Regions from separate parts of the Homo sapiens genome. Here regions 1, 2, 3 and 4 are each reported to be linked to region 5. Evidence: microRNA targets listed by miRTarBase, many of them from high-throughput screens and not tested one by one. Region 5 holds a microRNA gene; each other region holds the end of a gene's coding sequence. Distances are between the middles of the regions.

Region 1 (4,064 bases), 24 Mb from region 5:
GGTGAGGGGAACATGAGAATATGCAGAGGCCTTGGAGGAAGAGGACTGGCAGTTATGACAGGAAGGCTCTCTATACCTGGCTCCCCAGTGTTCTGCCCCTGGCACTGAGCATGAGGAGCCAGGCTTTGGGGAGACTTTGCAATCACCCCCCCAACCTGGTCCATTTTCCACAGGTAGCTTTCTTGAACTCACCTTGACCCCTCCTCAGCCAGCAGCCCCCACCTCCAGGGGCAAAGGAGCTGAAAGACAGTCCTGAACTGGGGGGAGCTGGGATCACATCAGCCAGGCCCTGTCCCTCACAGGAAGTGAGATGAGGTGATACCATGGATGGTGACTAAGGCCCCAAAGTCCCTGCCTCTCTGCCTCCCCAGAAACCTCACAGCCAGGCCAGCCCCCAGAGCAGAGCCTGTGTAAACATGCCCAGGAGGGGAGGAGGGGTTGCTACATATGAGAAACAGTTAAAAATAAATTTAAAAAGCACCACTATGTCCTGTGCTGGTCTCCACAGCCCCGAAGTCTCAGCTCAGGAAGGGTGAGTGCTGGGGGATTATCAGCTGGGGCTCGGCTCCCTCCCTTGCAGACAGCAAGCAGGTAAGGGCTTCATTTTGCTGTTTTCTCCATGGAGGGCTCTGGGAAAGGATCCTGCAAGTTGGAACCTCCTAAGACTCCAGAACCAGGAGCGGCTCCCTCTCATATCTACTCCCCTCAAACCCTGTCATTCCCGGGAAGCTCCCAGAGGCAGCTGAGGCCACGCCCCTGCTCCTGAGCGGCAGCATCCAGACCCGGAAAGGACCTAGTTTCAGCCTGGCACCTCCCAAGGTGAGCCATCTCTTCTTAGGCATAGTAGGAACATGGAGACCACACTACCCCCACTCCCTGAAAGCTGGGATGGGATGGTGAGTCAAGGGTCACCATGCCCCTATTAGTCTGGCTGGAGTTAGGTTAGGCATCCTCCCAGGGCTCATTGACCCCAGGGGGAACTTGGGGAGGCAAGGGACTGACCAGCTGGCCTCCCAGGGTGCCTCTGGCCAGGCCATGCTGGATCTGGCTCTGGGTCAAGCGCTGCTGGTTTGAAGAGCTGCCAGCCTGTGGCGCCTTCCCTGACAGGCACTCTCATCAGCAAAGGCATCCCTGGTTCTGCCTTCCCTTCCTCTTTGCTTCAAAGGCACCATCCGTCTCCCTGGCAGGCCAAGAGCTACACTGTCTGTACTCCATGCGCCACCCCCGCTGGTGACCCAGCAACTGCAAAGGGCCTCTGGTTTGTCCCGCTCTGGGAGGAGACTCAGTGGCTTTTCCTCCTCCTCAGCTGCAAGGATCCTACCCCAGCCCAGCCCAGCTCTGAGAAACAGGACTTTGCTACAGCCCGCCTCAAAGCATCTTGGTGGACTTCTCCCCAGCACGAGCTCTCTCTACTTCAGGGATTGCAAACTGGCATCCTCTTTTGCCAGTATTGGGTTTTTAAGTTTTTTTTAAGTGATCACCAGCATTTAAAAATCCTATTTCACATAAAAAGTCAGAATTCTGGCCTCTGACAAAGCAGACAATCTGGCAACACAGGGCCGGCACTGTAAGAACAGCTGAGCAGCTGTGGCCCCTTTAACAGGGTGTGCCCTCTTCAGGTAGCCATAGTCCCCACACAGCCCTTCAGGCCTCCTTCTCACCGTTTGCTCGTCATTTGAGCTTACAACCCTAGTTCTGCTCTTCCTTGTGTAGCCCCCCAGCCCTTCTGCAGCCTTACTGACAGCTGTCCCTGGCAGACTTACAGCCTCTCAGTAAAACAAAACCTTAATGGTCATCTCATCCGTTTACCCTTCCACAATCTGAATCCTTTCTACCTTTCTACCGCCTCCTGACAAACAGCCATCTCGTCTCTGCTGTAGGTAACCCATTACTCCTCAAGCAGCCTGATCCTGAACTCTCCCCCACATCCCTTTCTCACTTGCATCCCCCAGTTCCCAGCTGTCCCTCAGTGGCTGCACTGCACCCTTTACCTGCACCTCCTTGTTGCTTGAGCCTCCAGAACCTACCCCTGGCTCTGCCAACCTCTCCGCATCCTCTCACTTTCCCACTGGGTATCTCATGCTGACGGGCAGGCTGGGGACAACCCCAGGTGCCTAGGTTCTTCCCTGCCAGGGCCCTGATGCCCTGCCACAAGTGACTGGCCCAGCCATCATTGCAACCCCAAGCCAAGATGGGCTGTTAAAGAATGGAAGGCAGGCCTGGGGCAGAAGCATCCTAGTCTGGTCTTGATTTCCCCAGCAAGGGCTCCTGGCACTGCTGGCGGAGAGACCCAGGCCCAAGCATCCCGCCCCATCACCCCATGTCCAGCCACAGCTCCTGGACTGGCACCCAGGGTTTGCTCAACTCCCACAGCCATGCTGGCCTCAGTGCCATTCTGGGTCCTCCGCCAAGCCCAGACCCTCCGCAGGGAGCCTGTGGGCTAGAGCAACAGGCAGAGCTGGGACTGAGCAAGTAGACGCAGTTAGGGCCTGGGAACTTTTTGCCCAGAGGTCCTTCCCTGGGCTCGCTCTCATATCACCCCTCCTCTGCCCACACAGCACTGCCCATGGGGGCCTCAAGGGCCTGAAGGCTCTCCTGAGCCACGAGCTCATGCTCTTGGGGCAGATGTGGCCTGTGCCAAGCTCCTGGTTAATGGGCTACACAGACCTTTCTCAGAAGGACTCCTACCCTGCTTCCCTTTCCCTGGGTCAAGATTCTGCCAGGGCAGGCAGAACTGGAGAAACATCTCCACCCCACCCCCACCCCCCATCACAGGCCTGGTAAGGCTGGGAGATTTCCCACTGATAAGATGCACCCAACTCCCAGAGAGAAGCCAGGGGCAGAGGCACCAGCAGAACCAGCAGTTTCCCTCACCTGGCCCCATGACACATGGATTTGTTAAGCACTGGCCTTCCCACCATCAGCAGATCCATTTGGACTAAGTTTTCCCCAAATACCTTAAACTTCAGTTGTAGAGTTAAAAACTCCAAATAAAATACTAACGGCCTCTAGGCCCAAAGTTAGGGGGCTTGGCTCAGTGGGAGCGAGAGCAGCTTGGGGGGCTGAGCTGGAACACACTCTTCCTGCAGCCTCTTGCCCTGCCTTGTCACCAGCCCCGCCTTCCCCATGCATAAGGCTGGTTCCAGCAGGTGGATCCTGGCCCCCAAGAGTGGGTGGGGCCTGGGGTGCTGGCATCCGCCTCAGACCCGGATCTGGTACCCGTTAAGGTCTGGCATGGCTTTGGGCTCGGAAGTCTTCTTGTCACCCGAGGGCCTGTGGGAGGAAGAGAGCAGAGCGGGAGGAGAGTGAGTGGTCTGTTAGGGAGATGGAGTTGGGGAGCCAGCAGCGGCTGCCTGGTGGCTTCCCCGCCACATTCTCCAAGTGGCCCTCCAACGCACAGCACAGTGCGTATGGAAGTGTGTTTTTGGACACCCTGGCCCGCCTGTGCTGTCTGAATGTGGCCCCGGCTCGCTCTCACAGGCTTTCTCGCTGCTGGAGGCTGGCTAATCTGGCTGCAGTTGGTAGGTAACAGCTTAAAGTATAAATCTGTCTGAGGGGAATCTGTCATCTACAAAAGCCTCTTAGATAAAAGTCACAGATGATGGATATTTTGGTGCCAGAGGCCTGCTTAGTACCCCACCCCTGAATTCATACCAGAGAGGTGGCTCCTGAATGACAATTATATTTAAAGCAAGAGTCAGAGTGATGTGTAGGAGCTGAAATCAGAGGAGGAGAGCTGGTATTTCAATGGCTTGTTCTTGCTACCTGGATACAGACAAAAACCAGACTCTTGGGTGGGGGGCAAAGTTATGTTCAAAGCCATCTAATATTCACGCCCTCCCCCATGACATTCCTGGGTGGCTCACTGCCTTGCAGGGGCCCCATCCTTTCTACCTTTTCTCTCACATAACCCATGCTCAGACTAGTGGGCTAGCAGAGTTTGGTTTCTCTGGGGAAGTAGAACTGCCTTGCTGTGGGAAATGTCAATACACAAACCTCTAAACCCACCATCCCAAGTCACCTCCCTTGGGTGGGAGCGAAAAAGAGAGAAGGGTGGGAGAGAG
Region 2 (4,064 bases), not on the chromosome of region 5:
TTCCTTCTGCACTGTAGCATGTCTGCCTCATAAGGGAGCTGTTATCCCATCCGTTTCATGACTTCCTGCACCAGGTCCCAGCAGCAGATGTGCTAATGCTGTGTGCTTATGAGCTCCAGGTGTTTCCAAGGAGGAACGTGGGGCTCTTAACTTGCTGGAGTTCAGCATATTCATTTTTCCCTTGTGGGGACTGCTTGCTGTTCTCTTGGTCCCCATCCTTCCAGGTCCAGCCACATGTCTTAAGGCTTCAGTATTTCAGAAATTTTCTCTCATCTTCCCAAAGTCTGTTGTTTCTGTACCTTAGTGCTGTTCAAAACATGTTGTCTATATTAGCATCTATCTATCTTGGGCATTCCAGAAAAGCTGGGCTTACTGTATCTGTATTGGTTGCTTACCAATTTTCCATAATTTAATTTCAAAGCACTCTCCATCTGCATGTAGCAAGAACATGTACGCACCATATATTCATCAGTATGACCTGTTTTATTTTTGTTCTTTTTCCTGCTCCAACTCTGATTTCTTCAAAGTGGGCCGAGTACATTCTATTTGCCGCGTTGCTTCTGGTCGTCTGTGTAATTTTTGCCATCATGGCTCGGTTCTATACTTACATCAACCCAGCGGAGATCGAAGCTCAATTTGATGAGGATGAAAAGAAAAACAGACTGGAAAAGAGTAACCCATATTTCATGTCAGGGGCCAATTCACAGAAACAGATGTGAAGGTCAGGAGGCAAGTGGAGGATGGACTGGGCCCGCAGATGCCCTGACCTCTGCCCCCAGGTAGCAGGACACTCCATTGGATGGCCCCTGATGAGGAAGACTTCAGAATTGGGAACTAAACCATGAATGCTATTTTCTTTTTTCTTTTTCTTTTCTTTTTTTTTTTTTTTTTTTTTTTGAGACAGAGTTTTGCTCTTGTTGTCCAGGCTGGAGTGCAATGGCACGATCTCAGCTCACTGCAACCTCCGCCTCCCAGGTTCAAGTAATTCTCCTGCCTCAGCCTCCCGAGTGGCTGGGATTAGCGGCATGCACCACCACGCCCAGCTATTTTTGTATTTTTAGTAGAGATGGGGTTTCACCATGTTGGCCAGGATGGTCTCGATCTCTTGACCTGGTGATCTGCCCACCTCGGCCTGCCAAAGTGCTGGGATTACAGGCTTGAGCTACCGCGCCCGGCCGTGAACGCTATTTTCTAAGCAGCCAGCAGTGAATCTAAAACTCTGGAAGAAGTCTTCTGTTTGAAAGGCTTATTTAAGCCACACGTACACACACTGTCTTAGAGTACTGTGAGCCCACCCCACATTGGTCATCTTCCCTATCACACAAATGATGTTATTTTGGACTAGCTTAATTTTGAAATGGTAACAAAGTTTCCTATTCCATACTGTTCATTTCTAATACTCTTACGAAAACTATTCTAAAGGAGGCAGGAGCCAAGGCCAAAAGTGAACGTACAGGTTTGAAATGGCTGTGATAAGGACCAGCTGGTATTAACTGATAACTTTACCTTTGGGTTTTTGTTATTTTGTTTTTCTAGTCCCTACCTGTGTTTAAATTATGGATAACTCGAAAGACAGCTCAGGTGAAGGCCAGTAATGATTTTTTTGAAGTTTCAATGGTGTGAAATAAATTTCTGTTCTTAAGCCTAAGTGTTCATGTATCTCTGGGTAGGGTAAGAAATCTTTAACATCCTATCTGATTATAAAAGCAGCACCTGCTCATTAAAATTTCTTCCTGGTCCTGTTTTCCCCAGGGATGATTGATTGATTGGTTGATTGATACATAGGCAGACAAACAGATAAAGAAAGGTAGATAGGCAGATAGATAGATGATAGATAGATAGATTAGATAGATAGATGAACAGATAAAGGTAGGTAGGTAGATGATCGATAGATAGATAGACAGACAAACAGATAAAGGTAGGTAGGTAGATAGAAGATAGATAGATAGGCCGGGCACAGTGGCTCACGCCTGTAATCCCAGCACTTTGGGAGGTAGAGGCGGGTGGATCATGAGGTCAGGAGATCAAGACCATCCTGGCTAACACGGTGAAACCCCATCTCTACTAAAAATATAAAAAATTAGCTGGGTGTGGTGGCAGACGCCTGTAGTCCCAGCTACTGGGGAGGCTGAGGCAGGAGAATGGCGTGAACCTGGGAGGCGGAGCTTGCAGTGAGCTGGAATCACACCACTGCACTCCAGCCTGGGCGACAGAGCAAGACTCCATCTCAAAAAAAAAAAAAAAGAAGAAGATAGATAGATCGATAGATGATGGATAGATACAGGTAGGTTGGTAGATAGATGATAGATAGATAGATAAATGTAGGTAGGTAGGTAGGCAGGTAGATGATAGATAGATTAGATAGATAGATAGGAGAGACTTATATTACTAGGACCGTCCTATGTGCACATTTGTGTACCATCTCCTAGTGTTTTTCTCGATACTCACAAACATTTCCTGCTGGCGTAAAAATTCTTCTAAAACATTTTAAACACCTAATGCCTAATTTATCCTAGAGATGTTTATCATTTAGCCATCCCAGGTATCAGGTCCAGAATGAGTCTACCTTGGCACTCCTACACAAACAAGCCACAGTTCTTAGACAAACTAGTGCGCAACTCTGATGATTGAAACTGGTTCCTGCATTAGAAGGAAGAGTTCGCATTTGGCCTCTAAAATGCTTATATACAAGCTCGCCATTGCACCATAGGGGCTGCATTGAAGGGGAGACTCAAAGTCCAGAGTGAGAAACATAATGTGATTATCAAATCTTAACACTTTTTCTAGCCTTGGGATCGAGTCCTAATTCCTTAACTAGGGGCCATGAGGCTCTTTTTCCCTCTGGACACACTTCCTTTCTCTCCATGCACTCTGATCCTGCCAGCATGGAGCTGCTGCTCCTTCCTGGAACACATCACATTCTCATTCCCAAGTCAAAAGGCAAGAAAAAGAATACCCCAAGATACTTAATTTCCACCACCCCCAACCCCTCCACCTGGCTAAGCCCTCTTCATTTTCATGCCATGTCCTCCAAGAGTTTTCCTGTCCTCCCTCCCTCCCATGCTAGGCTGTGGCCCTGCTCTGAGCTCCCATAACACAGCTTCACATTTTCAAGTTGCACAGACCTCAGTGGATCATCACTATCTAGCTTTTCCTAGACCAAAAGCTCTTCTGTATATCTTGTTCACTGTTCAGTCTCCAGAACATAGTAATCCTCTATTTGTTTTTTAATTTTTAATTTTTTTTTTAAGAGACAAGTTTTTACTCTGTTATCCAGGCTGGAGTGCAGTGGCACGATCATAACTCACTGCAACCTTGAACTCCTAGGTTCACGGGATCCTCTCACCTCAACCTCCCAAGTAGCTAGGACTACAGGCTTGTGCCACCACACCCAGCTAAGTTTTTAATTTTTTTTGTAAAGGCAGGGTCTCACTGGCTGGTCTCGAACTCCTGGGCTTAAGACTTCCAAAGTGCTGGGATTACAGGCATAAGCCACAGCACCCAGCCCTAGTGCTCCACTCTTATAGTTGCAGTATAAGTTTGGGCAGGTTTTGATCTTTTTAATCATTTCCTCTCCTGTGAAATAAAGAGAATACCAGGCAGACAATGTGAGGCCTTAAAAATCCTTTGTTTGGCTGGGTCCAGTGGCTCACGCCTGTAATCCCAGCACTTTGGGAGGCCGAGGCGGGTGGATCACTTGAGGTCAGGAATTTGAGACCAGACTGGCCAACATGGTGAAACCCCATCTCTACTAAAAATACGAAAATTAGCCAGGCATGTGGCACATACCTGTAATCCCAGCTACTCGGGAGGCTGAGGCAGCAGAATCACTTGAACCCGGGAGGCGGAGGTTGCAGTGAGCCGAGATCGCATCACTGCACTCCAGCCTGGGCAACAGAGTGAGACCCCGTCTCAAGAAAAATAAAAATAAAAATAAAAAAATAAATCCTTTGTTTAAGGGTGCCTGGCACACAACAGGCATTCATATATTTGAATGAAGGTCGTTGTCATGCCCCTCAACCAAGTCTGATATTAACACATAGTGTTCTTTGCGTGTGAGTAAC
Region 3 (4,064 bases), not on the chromosome of region 5:
ACTTTTCTGGAAGGCAGGGTTCAAAGCTGAGTTAGTAAGGATGAATTATTAAGGCTTTGGAAAGCACTGGGCTTGAAGCTGAAGGCAGCTATTCCTTAGAATTGAGGACCAGTGAGCGAAGGTTGAACATTTTTCATTCAGCTCCAGGAATTAGAAGGTGTCTTTGAACTTTTTAAGGCCTAGCTTGGGGACAATAGCCATCAGATAAAAGGCATGAATGCTTATACCAGGGCTTCTGTGGTCTGTTCCAGATGAGTATGTGGCCAGCCTACACCTGCCTACCTTTGATGCCCACTTGACAGAGCTGACAGATGAACAGGCCAAGTATCTGGGACTCAACAAGAATGGGCCCTTCAAGCCTAATTACTACAGGTGCCTTGGGCTCCCCAGAAATCAGGGACACCTGGGCAGTGATGAGCTTCCTGCACTGGAATTGGTCTTTGCATCCCCAACCACATATGCTTACATGAACTCAGAAAAATGAACCCACTTCCCCTCACTGCCACCTTCAAAAGACTCTTCAAGGCCTTAAATAGTATTCCCCTTCCTGAATTTGCCTTTTGGAGATAGAGAGGTGGAGTTTGGGTAAGTGGCTATTTGCCTCATTAAATAAAGTTCCCCTTCCTCAATTCCTTTCCCCATTTCATCTTGTTGCTATGATTTTTATCTCTTTATGGAGAAATATTGGCCTTTTTCAATGATGTGAAAAGGAAACACAGTTATTTCCTGTCACTGTACACTCCAGAAAAGTCTCTGCCTCCCTGTTACACCTTTAGGCAGGCTCTTCATGTCCCAGCATCCCCATTAGCTGATAACATCACAGTCTCATCTTTCTTTTTCCCTCCAGGTATTAAGTTCCTGTAACTCAAACCAGAATTTTTAAGGAATAGAACTCCAAGCCTTTTCTCCACTACTATACAAGAAAGAATTCAGCAAGCTGCTTCTCCAATCAAAGCTGCCTGCCGTGCTCACCCTGTGTGTTAGGTTATTTATTTATTAAAATCAAGAATCCTGTGCCTGTAGTGTTGGCCCAGAGTGTGGTTACTGCCCTGAGGGCCATGAAAGCCACAGAGGATGGGCTGAGGAAGGAAAGAAATGGGGTTACTGCTCCCAGTGCATCATTTGCATCATTCCCCATTGACTGAATCCTCAGCAGTGGCCGTTTTTCCTCTTGTCCAGGCTCACGAGTTAGTCCAGGGATTCCATACTCCCTATTCCCTGGAGTTTTCTGGAATAAATTTTCAGCACCTGCTTTTCTCAGCTTGGCCCTTCCCCGGGTGAGGCCGTTTGGAATTAACATGGCCAGTGTTTCACACAAGATTGGGTTCCCAATCTTGACCATCACTATCACTGCCTTCTTTATATAAAGGCTAATAAGGAAGGAGTGTTATTTATGGCTTTGCCAAGCTACATCAAGAACTCAGCTGTGCTGTGCCTACCAGGGGTCTCCTTTCTTACCCAGGACTCCTTTCTTCTCCTTGAATATTTATGTCCATTTTAACACTTCCTGGTTGCAAGAGGGATGTGCCTCCATTATTTCCTCCACAGTTTTGGTATTTGTCAGACATTTGTTCTGCTGTCTTTCTAATCCAGCCAACGTCTGCTCAGGAAGTGGGGCCAGCTCCACTGGGACCCATAGTTTTACTTCCTTGTCATTTGATTGGATAGTTTCCAAGGAAGCCCCTCCAGATTGGCACTATCTCAGAAAAGGAGAGCTTGTTGTGAAACACTGCTTCCTGAAACTTCCTGCTATTGCCTAAAGCTACGTCTGAAACTGAGTAGGGAAAGGCATACTTTTCCAGGGACTTAGGGGGATAGGCTTTGGAAATGGGACAGGTCTTTCAGACTCACAGCTTGATACCCTAACAAAGCAGAGTATATTTATTTGTTTCCCAGGAAGGCCATTGCAGTTTGACTGGCTGAGGGATACAGAGATGAAATTGTAAACTGTATCCAGATTATCAAAGCTAATTTGACTAGTTTGAACCTCGTCAGACATTCATTCCTTTGGCCATTGCCATGGATGAAACCGAGATCTGCAGTCTGATCTGTGGACTTCTCTGCTGGCATATCTTTTATGATTTAACCTCTTCCATTTGATGATTCTGTATTTCAGAGTCAGTTTCTTGAGTAACTCCAGTGCTACAAAAAGAATTAGTAATGTGGTGTGGGCAGCGTGACATTTTATGTCCCACCCAAAAATTGGATTCCTTTTGGAGACTGATCTGTTGGTCTCAGGCATTTCATTAGGACCAGATTGGTTCTAAGAGTTAGTCTGGACTGGCCCTAGGAAACTTGAATTAAATAAGCCTCTTCCCCTTACCGATCCTTTTTAACACTCTCAGGTTTGTTTGTTTCCCACTTTTTTCCTATGCTGGTCTGCCTCAAAGTCTCAAGACCAAGGTGACTCAAGATAACACCAGACCACGCATGATCACCAAAACCTTCCCATCCTGATTCTCTTCTTCTACCTCTACCCTCTCCAACTTCTCCTGGTCTTCACATATACTCTCAAAGCTAGTCTGAAAGTGACCTTACTTTCGGAAGTAGGGAAGTGGAACTTTGGTAAATGACTGTTTGCCTCATTTAATAGTATACAGGCTCAGCCCATAGACTACAGTTCTTCAGAGGCCATATGTCTCAGCAAGTACTGGTTATATTCTTTTTTTGTAAGGAAGATCATAAATGCTAAAAATTCCACTAAGCCATTCAGTTCTTCCTTTTGCCTACCTAGTCCTGATTTTTGTATTAATTGGTTCCCTTTAGCAAGGGATTCAGATCTTTGTACCTTATCTTATATCCAGAGCAGATTCCATTTGGCAGATAGATGGTCTCTAGCCTATTGTATTCTTAGACCAAAAATCATAACCTGCTGTTTCTCAGCAAAGCCTTGCTCTCTGGAGCTTACTATGTGCTGGTACTTAAAGAGTACATTCTGCCTTGCTGTAGTGAAGAGACCCACTCCAAATAAAAAAGGGGCCACACGGGGCTTCTAAGTTAGGTTGCCAGTGTTGCTGCCCATGATGAGTTATTTGCCTCTGAGTTTCAGATGACCTCTCTGTAGGGACACTGTGTTATCAACCATTAAGAAGAAAGAACCACAAGCCTCCCAAGTATTTGGGTTCTATCTTAGGGTTGAAATCTGGTCATTATTCCCTCTACCCTTGGAATCAGAGCAATGTGTCTTCTTTCCTCCAACCTCTTACCTTAGATGCATCCTGGTTATCTGGAAGCATGGGAAAGAAGGCTACTTATCTCTTTGTATGTGGCTCCAGTCTGTGAGGATACATAACATTTTCTCTACAATGAATCTGTGCTAATATTTTGCCTTCTTTCTTTCTTTTCTTTTCACCCTTAGAGACAGGGTTTCACTATGTTGCCCAGGCTGGTCTCAAACTCCTGGGCTCAAGCAATCCTCCTGCCTCAGCTTCCTGAGTAGCTGGAACCACAGGTGTGTGCTACCGTGCCTGGCACTTTTTTGCCTTCTTAATGGAGATATTCAGTTTTCTTTTTTTCATTTAAACAAAGAAAAAAAATGTATCTACTCTACCTTCCCTCTGCTCTCCTCCCTCCCTATCCTACTTGCCCATATGAGCACGGCTCCCCATGGCCACATACTCCTGCAAAGCTTTTATGCTGCTTCGCTTTTCTCTAAACAGATCTGATATTGCTGCTCCTGTGGTTTTCTCAAAATTAACTTTGCCGTGGTTTTTAAAAAGGAATCAAAATGCATTGTTGCATTAAGCTTTTTCAATAAAGGAAAATTACGGAAGGAAAATAGGCAACACCAGCAAATTATATGTGGACAGGTTCTAAACTCTATATATACATATATATATATATATCTATATATCTATATACGTAATCATCTAGTTCTGTCATCTTACTGAAAGGAATAACACTTCTAAAGATCACCATTTCTGAGAAGTTCTTGGAAATCTTTATGTCTAAGTGATTGTATTAGATCAGCAATAATGACTATGTAATCTCAAAAAACAAATAAAATATTCTTAACATGGACTCTTAAGGGTATTTCTTGTTTCTGTGAACTAGAAATTCAGAGA
Region 4 (4,064 bases), not on the chromosome of region 5:
CGTGAGGACACACAAGTTTAGTTACTTGCCTAAAGTCATCTGGAAATAAGTGAAAGTCCTTATTTGAACTCAGGCTTCCTTGTGGAGACCATGTCCTCGGCCACTATACTTCACTGACTCTACACAGGTTTCATGCAAACGGCTTCCTTCGCACAATGACACTATCCAGACCTGAGAACCGCCAGGTCTAAATGAGAATGGCTCCTCAGTAGGAAGACAATTGAAGTACTGTATTCTGCTTCCTTCTCCATGTCTCTAGGCCTTTAGCTGAAGCTGGAGAAGAGAAATGAAGGGTCTCCCCAGCCCAGGAACTCCTTGGGTACAGCTGTGGCCAATTACTCAAGGTCTTGATGCAGACAGACTTCAGGTCCCCAATGTCTGCCTTCAGCTAACACCATCTTCAGGTGTTGTCCTGGTGGTGATCCTCTCATTTCTGAATCCCACGGAGGAAAATTCCCCTGCATTGCAGGATTGGTGTTCAGTACCGTTTCACGCCCAGTGTCTTCATACACAAAACATGAAATTATTTTCCAGGCTTTCACCTTCAGACAAATTTGCTAATAGAGACATGCACTCCTATGGAAGGCTATTCCATACTCACTGTTTTTTCAGGCTTTTCTTTTCTCTTTCTCCTCCCCGCTTTTCCCTCCCCCTTTATTTTTCCCACTTGCATATCGTTCTCTGGAAGGAACCGGGGGTGGTGCCTAAACCATGTTCCATCCCTGGTCTGAGCAGGCTCAGCCGCACCAGTTCATTGGGTCTGTGCTACAAGGGAGACCCCACCATGTCTGGGATCAGCCTGAATGGCTTGTATCTGGCTGTAGGTACACTTGAGGACCTGGGCCCATTTCTGGAGCATGCGAGTAGATGGGGGCCGCAGTAGGAGCTTGTCTGGTGCTTAGTGGGGCTGAGGCACTCAGAATCCCCACCTGAGCTGTGGCCATCCTCTCCTTTGTTATTTAGCCTGCATCTCCCCAAAAGTAGACAGTGCATTAGGTTCAGCTGGAGCTCAAGTACGGGAGCTCTCCTGTGTGAGGAGCACATGGAAACCTCAGGTTAAAAACAACCAAAGCTGGTCTCATCTTCAGCAAAAAGAAGCCCAATCCATGTCCCCACGACTACGGGGAACGAGTACTCCATGGCACCCTCCTTCCTGCCCACACATCAGCCCTGCCAGAGACCAGCCTTGCTGGAGGATGCCTGGGCACTTCCGTAGCTGCCTTTACTCAGGTCATCCTAGTTCCTACTCCTCTCAGAAAACCCAATTCAACGTCCTGCCCAGATGTCACCAATTCCTCCCTCTTGGTTGGTCCTAGTCGCTGTCCTCTGAGCACCTGCAGTCTTAATTCATCCATTAGGGTGGTTGTGCTCACAGCCTTTCTCCCTTTATTCATCCTCATCTACCAGAATCTACTCCTGCTGCCATCCTCTCCCACCCAGTACCTGGGACAGGGACAGTGCCTAGTAGATCCTCAAGTATTTGCTGAATAAATCAGTCCAAGTCTGTGTATAGGGTCAGGCTTGCCAGTGTCATGTGCAAAGGAGGATAGAGAGCAAGTATGATCAGAACAGTCCAAGTGGAGCAGTGGTAGAAATGCTCCATCTCCCTTTCCTCCCTCAACTCCACCCTTCCCCACCGCAGCCATCAAAACTTACTGGTAGGGGTTTGGATACAAAGTGAAACAAATATACTCCTAGAAAGAGCATGGAAACTATCTGGCTACAGAGATAGGAGTCCCAGAAGGAGATGGGAAACTACATGGCTGAGATTGTTCTCTTGTAAAGACAATGGGTTTTGAAACCAGATACCAGACTTCAAATTCAGCCTTTGCTGATTGGCCCACTCACAGTATTCTCAGACAGGTTACTCAATTCTCAGAAGAGTCTATTTTTACCCTTTGAGTTACCTAGTTAACAGCTTCATACACAGCAGTAGTTTATGTTCAATTCTACATGTTCCTGACAGAGCTGTGTGTGGTGACTGATCACTCACACAACCTACCTGCTCCCGAGTTAGGATCTGGCCCAGTAACGACGATCACATGGCTCCACTGTGGTCCCCTCAAAATCTATCCTGTGCTCCTCCTAGGGAGGCACCTTCTAACTTCTGGTGAAACCAGCTGAGCTGCTAGCCCTGTGGGATGAGTCTACTACCCTCTCTGGTTTGGATCTGGTATAACTTACCCAACAAAGATCTGGCACACAAATGGCTCTTGGGTATCCTCCATCTAAACTCACAGCCCGTTTTGATTTAAGGAATTTCTTTATTGGAATTCCACTTTACCTCGCCACAAGGAGCTGGCTTTCATGACAAAGAGAGAGTGAGCCCTGAACAAAGTATTCGTTAACATTTTACAACAGACAACATATACATGTCCTGCATGACATCTTTACAATAACACATTCCAAAAACAATCAAACATTTAACAGGATTATTAAGAAACATTAATTTCCTTCTCTCTAGATGACTGGTACTTTAGCTTTTTAGCTTCTGCAATAAAATGCGTTCCTTCTCAGCATTTCTATTCATAGGAATCCCTGAATCACTTCTGTCATGTAAGGTGCGAATTCATGTTGACGGTGTGTTCCATTAGTTACTGAATGTGTCAAAATCCTCTCCACGGTAGAACCTTTTATTGTAGCATAATGTGTGAATACCACTTCCAGGTTATCCCTCATCACAAATTCATCATTCATTATGGGAGTTCATCTGAAACTTTAAAAAAGTTTCATCCATTCAACTAATGTATCACAATAGTACGTTCATCAATTTGCATTTTTTATGAGTGACTCTCTCCTATCTCCTGTTAGACTTGTAAGTCTATGCTTTCTACTTTTCCTAAAAGGAAATCCAAATTTTGTTTCAGAAGTCATCATCACTGCCCCCTCCCAAACCAATTACATCAAGTTTATACTTAAAGACCACTAATATTAAATAAATTTATATTCCCTGAAACCTATCCTCCCTGAATTTGCCTGTTGGAGGCCCTTAGTTTTCCCACTGACCAATGTGTAATTGGGATTCAAAGCTATACCTGAATTTCCTACATTTCTAGTAACAGAATTTACCAAACATGAACTTTCTGATGGTGATTACGTAACTTCTAATTGAAGCCCTTTCCTCATCTGTGTTTTATGTCCAGAAATGTCTACTGATTTTGAAGATTTGCTTCACATTCCATCACTCAGATCTAAGTTTTTCTCTCAAGTATGGACTGTTTTATATCCTGTAAGAGCTGAACTACCTTGACACTGGAGCCTTTCTTGCTTGCTATGATTGAAAATCACATAGAAAGGATTCCTCATAATCCTCTAGGATGGTTTCATTTACACTGTGTAAATTACAAGCCATGACCCCCTACATTCTTACATTCATAAGGTATTTCTTCCATTTGAGTTCGGAGAGACTTGGTAAGCTCTGCCTGCTACAGAGGCATCCTCATCCTGCCCCCATCCAGGGCATTCCCTCCCTCATAGGTTCTCTTCTGGGATGTGCCACTATAACTTCCCACATATATCACATTTAAAGATTCCTCTCCAGTATGGGTTCTTTTATGCTTGGTGAGATTTGATCTGATATTAAAAGCCTTACCACACTCATTACATCGGTATGGCTTCTTTCCAGTGTGGATCCTTTTGTGCTGGTCAAGGACTGATCTATAATTGAAGGATTTCCCACACTCACAATTATAGGGCTGCTTCCCCTGGTGGACACTTTTATGATTGATAAGACTTGAGTGTGAGATGTATGCCTTCCCACACTCATCACATTCATAGGGTTTCTCACCTGTGTGGATCCTTTTATGCACTGTGAGGCCTGAGCTGTTCCTGAAGGCCTTCCCACACCTATCACACACATAGGGTTTCTCCCCTGTGTGGATCCTCTTGTGCTGAGAAAGGAGAGAGCTGTAACTGAAAGATTTCCCACACTCAACACACTTGAAGGGTTTCTCCCCAAGATGGACTCTTTTATGGCTTATAAGAGTTCTGCTTGAGAAAAAAGCTTTTCCACATTCATCACATGTATGGGGTGTCCTGCCAGGGTGGGTACTCTTATGGTTAAT
Region 5 (4,067 bases):
AAGACAGGCTGCCATGGGTTAAGGCCAGGGGCTCAGCTGCAAGAGGTGCAGATCCCCTTTAGTGACCTGGCCCCAGAAGGCCCCAACTTTGACTTGCTGGGTGACCTCAGGTAGTGGCTGTCCATCTTCCAGCCTGTTTTCCCATCATCAAATGGGGGATGTAGTGAGAGGGAGGGTCATTTCCAGAATAACCAGACCCAGTCTCCAAGGGCCGCTGGCTCCTAAAACCCCCTCTGTTCCCAGATGACATTCTTCTTGGGGCTCCCAAGTCCCTTGAAGTAAACTACCTTGGGATAGAGCCTGGGGTCATAATGGAGGGTCCCTAGATCAGGTCTCCTGAAGGCCACCCCTGGGGGGTCCCAGAGGCTGGATTTTAATGGCAAATCTCTGTCCCTGCTTGGTAAGGGCTCCTTGGGTAAATGTGGGGTGGATTGGCAGTCCCCGTGTCCCTGCAGCCAGGACCGTCGACGACCGCCATCCTTTCCTCCTGGCCATCAAAGATGGAGGGGCAAGGCCGGGTGCAGTGGCTCACGCCTGTAATCCCAACACTTTGGGAGGCCGAGGCAGATGGATCACCTGAGATCAGGAGCTCGAGACCAGCCTGACCAACATGGAGAAACCCCGTCTCTACTAAATAACAAAAAATTAGCTGGGTATGGTGGCGCATGCCTATAATCCCAGCTACTCAGGAGGCTGAGGCAGAGAATCGTTTGAACCTGGGAGGCGGAGGTTGCGATGAGCTGAGATCGCGCCACTGCACTCCAGCCTGTGCAACAAGAGTGAAACTCCGTCTCAAGAAAAAAAAAAAAAAAAGGTGGAGGGATGAACAGGACTACCTTGCAGGGTAAGGCCAAACAGAGAATTTACCAGCAGTAATCACCCGTGCCCCACAGTGGGGGAATCCAGACACGCGCTAAGGTAAGCGTATTTATCCACAGTTCACACACACACACACATATTGACTGGGGGCTCCCGGTGCTAGAGTGGCCACGGCCCCCCACACCAGCAGACAGTGAGGACCTCGCCTCCTTGGCTCCCCTGCCCCATCCAGCCACAGCAGGTTTAGTTTACAGAGAAGAGCGGCAGCCCCCAGGCCCAGAGGAGAACTACTGATAAAGTGATACAACGGACTCTGGGGACTCCAGGAAAAGGGTGGGAGGGGGTGAGGGATAAAAGTACAAACTGGGTTCAGTGTGTACTGCTCAGGTGATGGGTGCACGAGAATCTCACAAATCACCACCAAGGAACTTACTCATGTAACCAAACACCACCTGTTCCCCAAAACCTATGGAAATAAAAAATTCAAAAGAAAAATAATACAAACCTTTTTTTCTCCTGGGGAAAGAAAAAGGAAGGTTAATGTTAAATGTCATGCTGGGTTATGACATCATGGCCACCACAAAAAAAGGTGAAAACTCCTCTGAACAGCAGACAGCACAGCCTGGCGCGGACACTGGCACACAGGCCCACGGGACCTGGCGGGCCACAACTAAATGCACCCATCTTCCACCTTCTCTGTCCACCCCCAGGTCACTGATGTCAGGGGATGGAGGGAGCCCTGAGCTCCACTCCTGCTGAGTCTTGTCCATCAACCTCCCTTCCCGACCCAGCCCACCCCCATGAGATGCCCAACGTGCCAGCCTCCAGCCCTGGTGCACACAGGGCCAGTTTCTGGAACACTCAACAGCACACCACCCAGGCAGCTGAGGGCTACTCACCGCTCGGGTCCGGACTCGCTCATCCCTCCTGCAGGCGGCCCCAGGTCCAGTTAGGGCCTTGGACTCAGGCCCCCGTGCCAGGAGCTTGACCAGCTCTTAACAATCTGCCCAGGGCAGAGACGTGAGGTCCCCTCCTGCCCACCTGGTGACCCCGGTTGCTCCCAAAGTGAAAAAGAGAAAGACAACAAATAGAAGCCATCACCCCCACTCCCAAGCTCCACCCACCCGCTCAGAGCCCTGCTGCGGGGACGACAAGACCCTTGTCATGCCCCAAGCCCATGAGCACTGACCTCAGACCCAAACAGTAAGCCTCGTCCAGACCCCTGTCCACCTGTCTGAGATCAACAAAGACAAGCATACCCATCCTGACACCACAGAAGCTGAGGGGTAGACCAGGAAGGGAGCGGGTGCATGGGGGAAGCGGGGGTGAGGAAGGGGAGACGGGAGGTGGGAAGGAAGGGCAGGGGAGAGGGTGCTCCCTCCTGCAGGAAGGGAGGGGGTGCATTGGGGAGGAGGGGTGAGAAAGGGAAGATGGGAGGTGAGTGGGAAGGGCAGAGGTGAGGGTGCTCCCTCCTACAGGAAGAAGGGGTGCATGGGGAAGGAGGGGTGAGGAAGGGGAGATGGGATGTAAGTGGGAAGGGCAGAGGTGAGGATGCTCCCTCCTGCACCCTCTTGTCCTCTCTAATGGCCTCAGCTACTGCAAGGCCTCTCTCCCCACACTGGCTGCCCTGCTGCCCCGATGCTCATGCCTGGGCTGGCTGTCGTGGCTTGTTAATGGGGTTAATGATGCCAATATCACAGGGCTTGGTGCGGGTCACCTCTGCCATGCACAGGACCTGAGTTAGTCAGAGAGGCAGAAGACAGAGGTCCAAGAACCAGGGGCCACGGCCGTGCCCCCTGCTCATGTTGCCATTGGGCACCCTCAGGTACCCAGCCTGAGCAGGGTACGCACAGGGGAAGAAGGGAGCCCAGCTGACAGCTTCTGGGGACCCAGAGTTGGGAATCCTTGGGGAGAGGGGAAATGTCTCCAGAACAGGTTTAAGGAGAGAGTAAGAAGCCGCCTGTGAGGGGCCTCAGCCTCCTGGTCATGAAAGAGTCCTGGGTAGAGGCAGAGACCCCTCGAGGAGACCCTCCTCTTGGGGCACAGAAAGGGCCAGCCCTGGTCCGCCAAAGCCCCACCCCCTCCACCCTGGGCACAAAGGGGCACCATCTCTCCAACGTCTGTCCATCCATCCTGTGGGCCGGGTCCCTTTGGAGGGCTCTGTGTGGGAGCACAGCCCCAGCCCCTCAGTGGGAGAAGCCCCAGGGCTACCCAACTCCCCCTCCGGCCTATCTGCCCTTGGCTGTGGAGTCAGCCCAGGGGGTGTCCCACCAGGGGCATAGTTCCCTGCCAAGGAGGGGCCTCAGAGATGGCCCAGCCCCAGGCCCTCCCCTCCAGGAAGTCAGAGAGCTGCAGAAGAGAGAGAGAAGAGCCCAAGGAGCATGCCGGGAAGAGGCTGGCAGGACAGCAGCGGACTTGAGGACGCGTCCCCGTGCAGCCAAGGGTGCAGAGGAGGGTCCGGGGGCTGCGCGTGGTTGAAGGGGATGAAGAAAGGCATCATATAGGAGCTGGATAACTGTGCATCAACTCCTGTATGAAGCCGTTCCCACCCCCCAACTACTGACTACGGGCCGCAACCCTCCTCCCGGAAGCGCAGTGCAAGCGCTCGGATGGCAGAGGGGACGCCTGCTGCTAGTGGTTAGAGCAGTGACAGCAAGGGACAGCCAGCCTAGGCAGTGCCACCCACTGCTGGGCACCTGCAGCGCTGGGGTACCTGTCCACCCTGCCCAGCCTTGCCCTACCTGCCTCCTATGGCCAGGGCCTGGGCCTCCCTTAGCCCCACAGAGCCCCCAGGTGACTGTGCAGCCAGGCCAAGGGACGGAGGATGGGGAGGTGAAGGGGGAGACAGGCCTGATTCTGGCCCAGGTCTGTGAGTGGACATCGGGGACTCGACCCCACCCACCCACTGCTTTGACTCCCTGGTACTTCTCCAGCCTTGCCTTCTACATCTGTGAAATGGGTTGCAACAGGCACCTCTGGGGACCCAGTGAGGACTCATGAAGTCCAGGGGCACTTCAAGAATTTCCCAGAGACAGAAAGTAGATTTTTGGTTGCTGAGGGCTGGGGGGTGTGCATGGAGGGTGAAGGTGACAGCTGAAGGCTCTGGAGTTCTTTTGGGGGTGATGAAAATGATCTTAAATTGATTATGGTGATAGTTGCAGATATCTGTGAATAACTAAAACACACTTCGCTGTGAGCTTTAATGGGCGGATTGTGTGTATGTGGATTACATCTCAATAAAGTTGTAC

What was found. Region 5 holds the annotated microRNA hsa-miR-665 (ACCAGGAGGCUGAGGCCCCU, at 2,785-2,804, opposite strand). A microRNA usually pairs through its seed, bases 2 to 8, with sites in the 3' UTR of a target mRNA and lowers its output. Matches are read on the target gene's strand: a 7mer-m8 pairs with bases 2 to 8, a 7mer-A1 pairs with bases 2 to 7 and ends in A, and an 8mer does both.
Region 1: miRTarBase lists VASH1 as a target of hsa-miR-665. Seed matches in the 3' UTR shown: 7mer-m8 at 674-680 and 7mer-m8 at 421-427.
Region 2: miRTarBase lists SLC15A1 as a target of hsa-miR-665. The part of its 3' UTR that is shown has no 7-base or 8-base seed match.
Region 3: miRTarBase lists AHCYL2 as a target of hsa-miR-665. Seed matches in the 3' UTR shown: 7mer-m8 at 2,490-2,496 and 7mer-m8 at 3,397-3,403.
Region 4: miRTarBase lists ZFP62 as a target of hsa-miR-665. The part of its 3' UTR that is shown has no 7-base or 8-base seed match.

What each region holds. Positions count from the first base shown.
Region 1 is chr14:76,778,155-76,782,218 of GRCh38, reverse strand. VASH1 (vasohibin 1) reads right to left here. Exons shown (of 7, transcript NM_014909.5): 7 at 1-3,273. The coding sequence ends at 3,201. It overlaps VASH1-AS1 (VASH1 antisense RNA 1), which reads left to right. Exons shown (of 2, transcript NR_104184.1): 2 at 1-486. Among named protein-coding and RNA genes, the nearest start is that of VASH1-AS1, 6.5 kb to the left of the region's middle.
Region 2 is chr13:98,681,379-98,685,442 of GRCh38, reverse strand. SLC15A1 (solute carrier family 15 member 1) reads left to right here. Exons shown (of 23, transcript NM_005073.4): 23 at 528-1,642. The coding sequence ends at 719. Among named protein-coding and RNA genes, the nearest start is that of SLC15A1, 69 kb to the left of the region's middle.
Region 3 is chr7:129,426,192-129,430,255 of GRCh38, forward strand. AHCYL2 (adenosylhomocysteinase like 2) reads left to right here. Exons shown (of 17, transcript NM_015328.4): 16 at 252-372; 17 at 848-4,020. The coding sequence ends at 854. Among named protein-coding and RNA genes, the nearest start is that of STRIP2, 6.2 kb to the right of the region's middle.
Region 4 is chr5:180,845,367-180,849,430 of GRCh38, forward strand. ZFP62 (ZFP62 zinc finger protein) reads right to left here. Exons shown (of 2, transcript NM_001172638.2): 2 at 2,245-4,064. The coding sequence ends at 3,426. Among named protein-coding and RNA genes, the nearest start is that of ZFP62, 14 kb to the right of the region's middle.
Region 5 is chr14:100,873,812-100,877,878 of GRCh38, reverse strand. It overlaps MIR665 (microRNA 665), which reads right to left and starts at 2,846; the gene lies at 2,775-2,846. It overlaps MIR337 (microRNA 337), which reads right to left and starts at 3,386; the gene lies at 3,294-3,386. RefSeq lists a silencer at 474-684 and an enhancer at 4,038-4,067.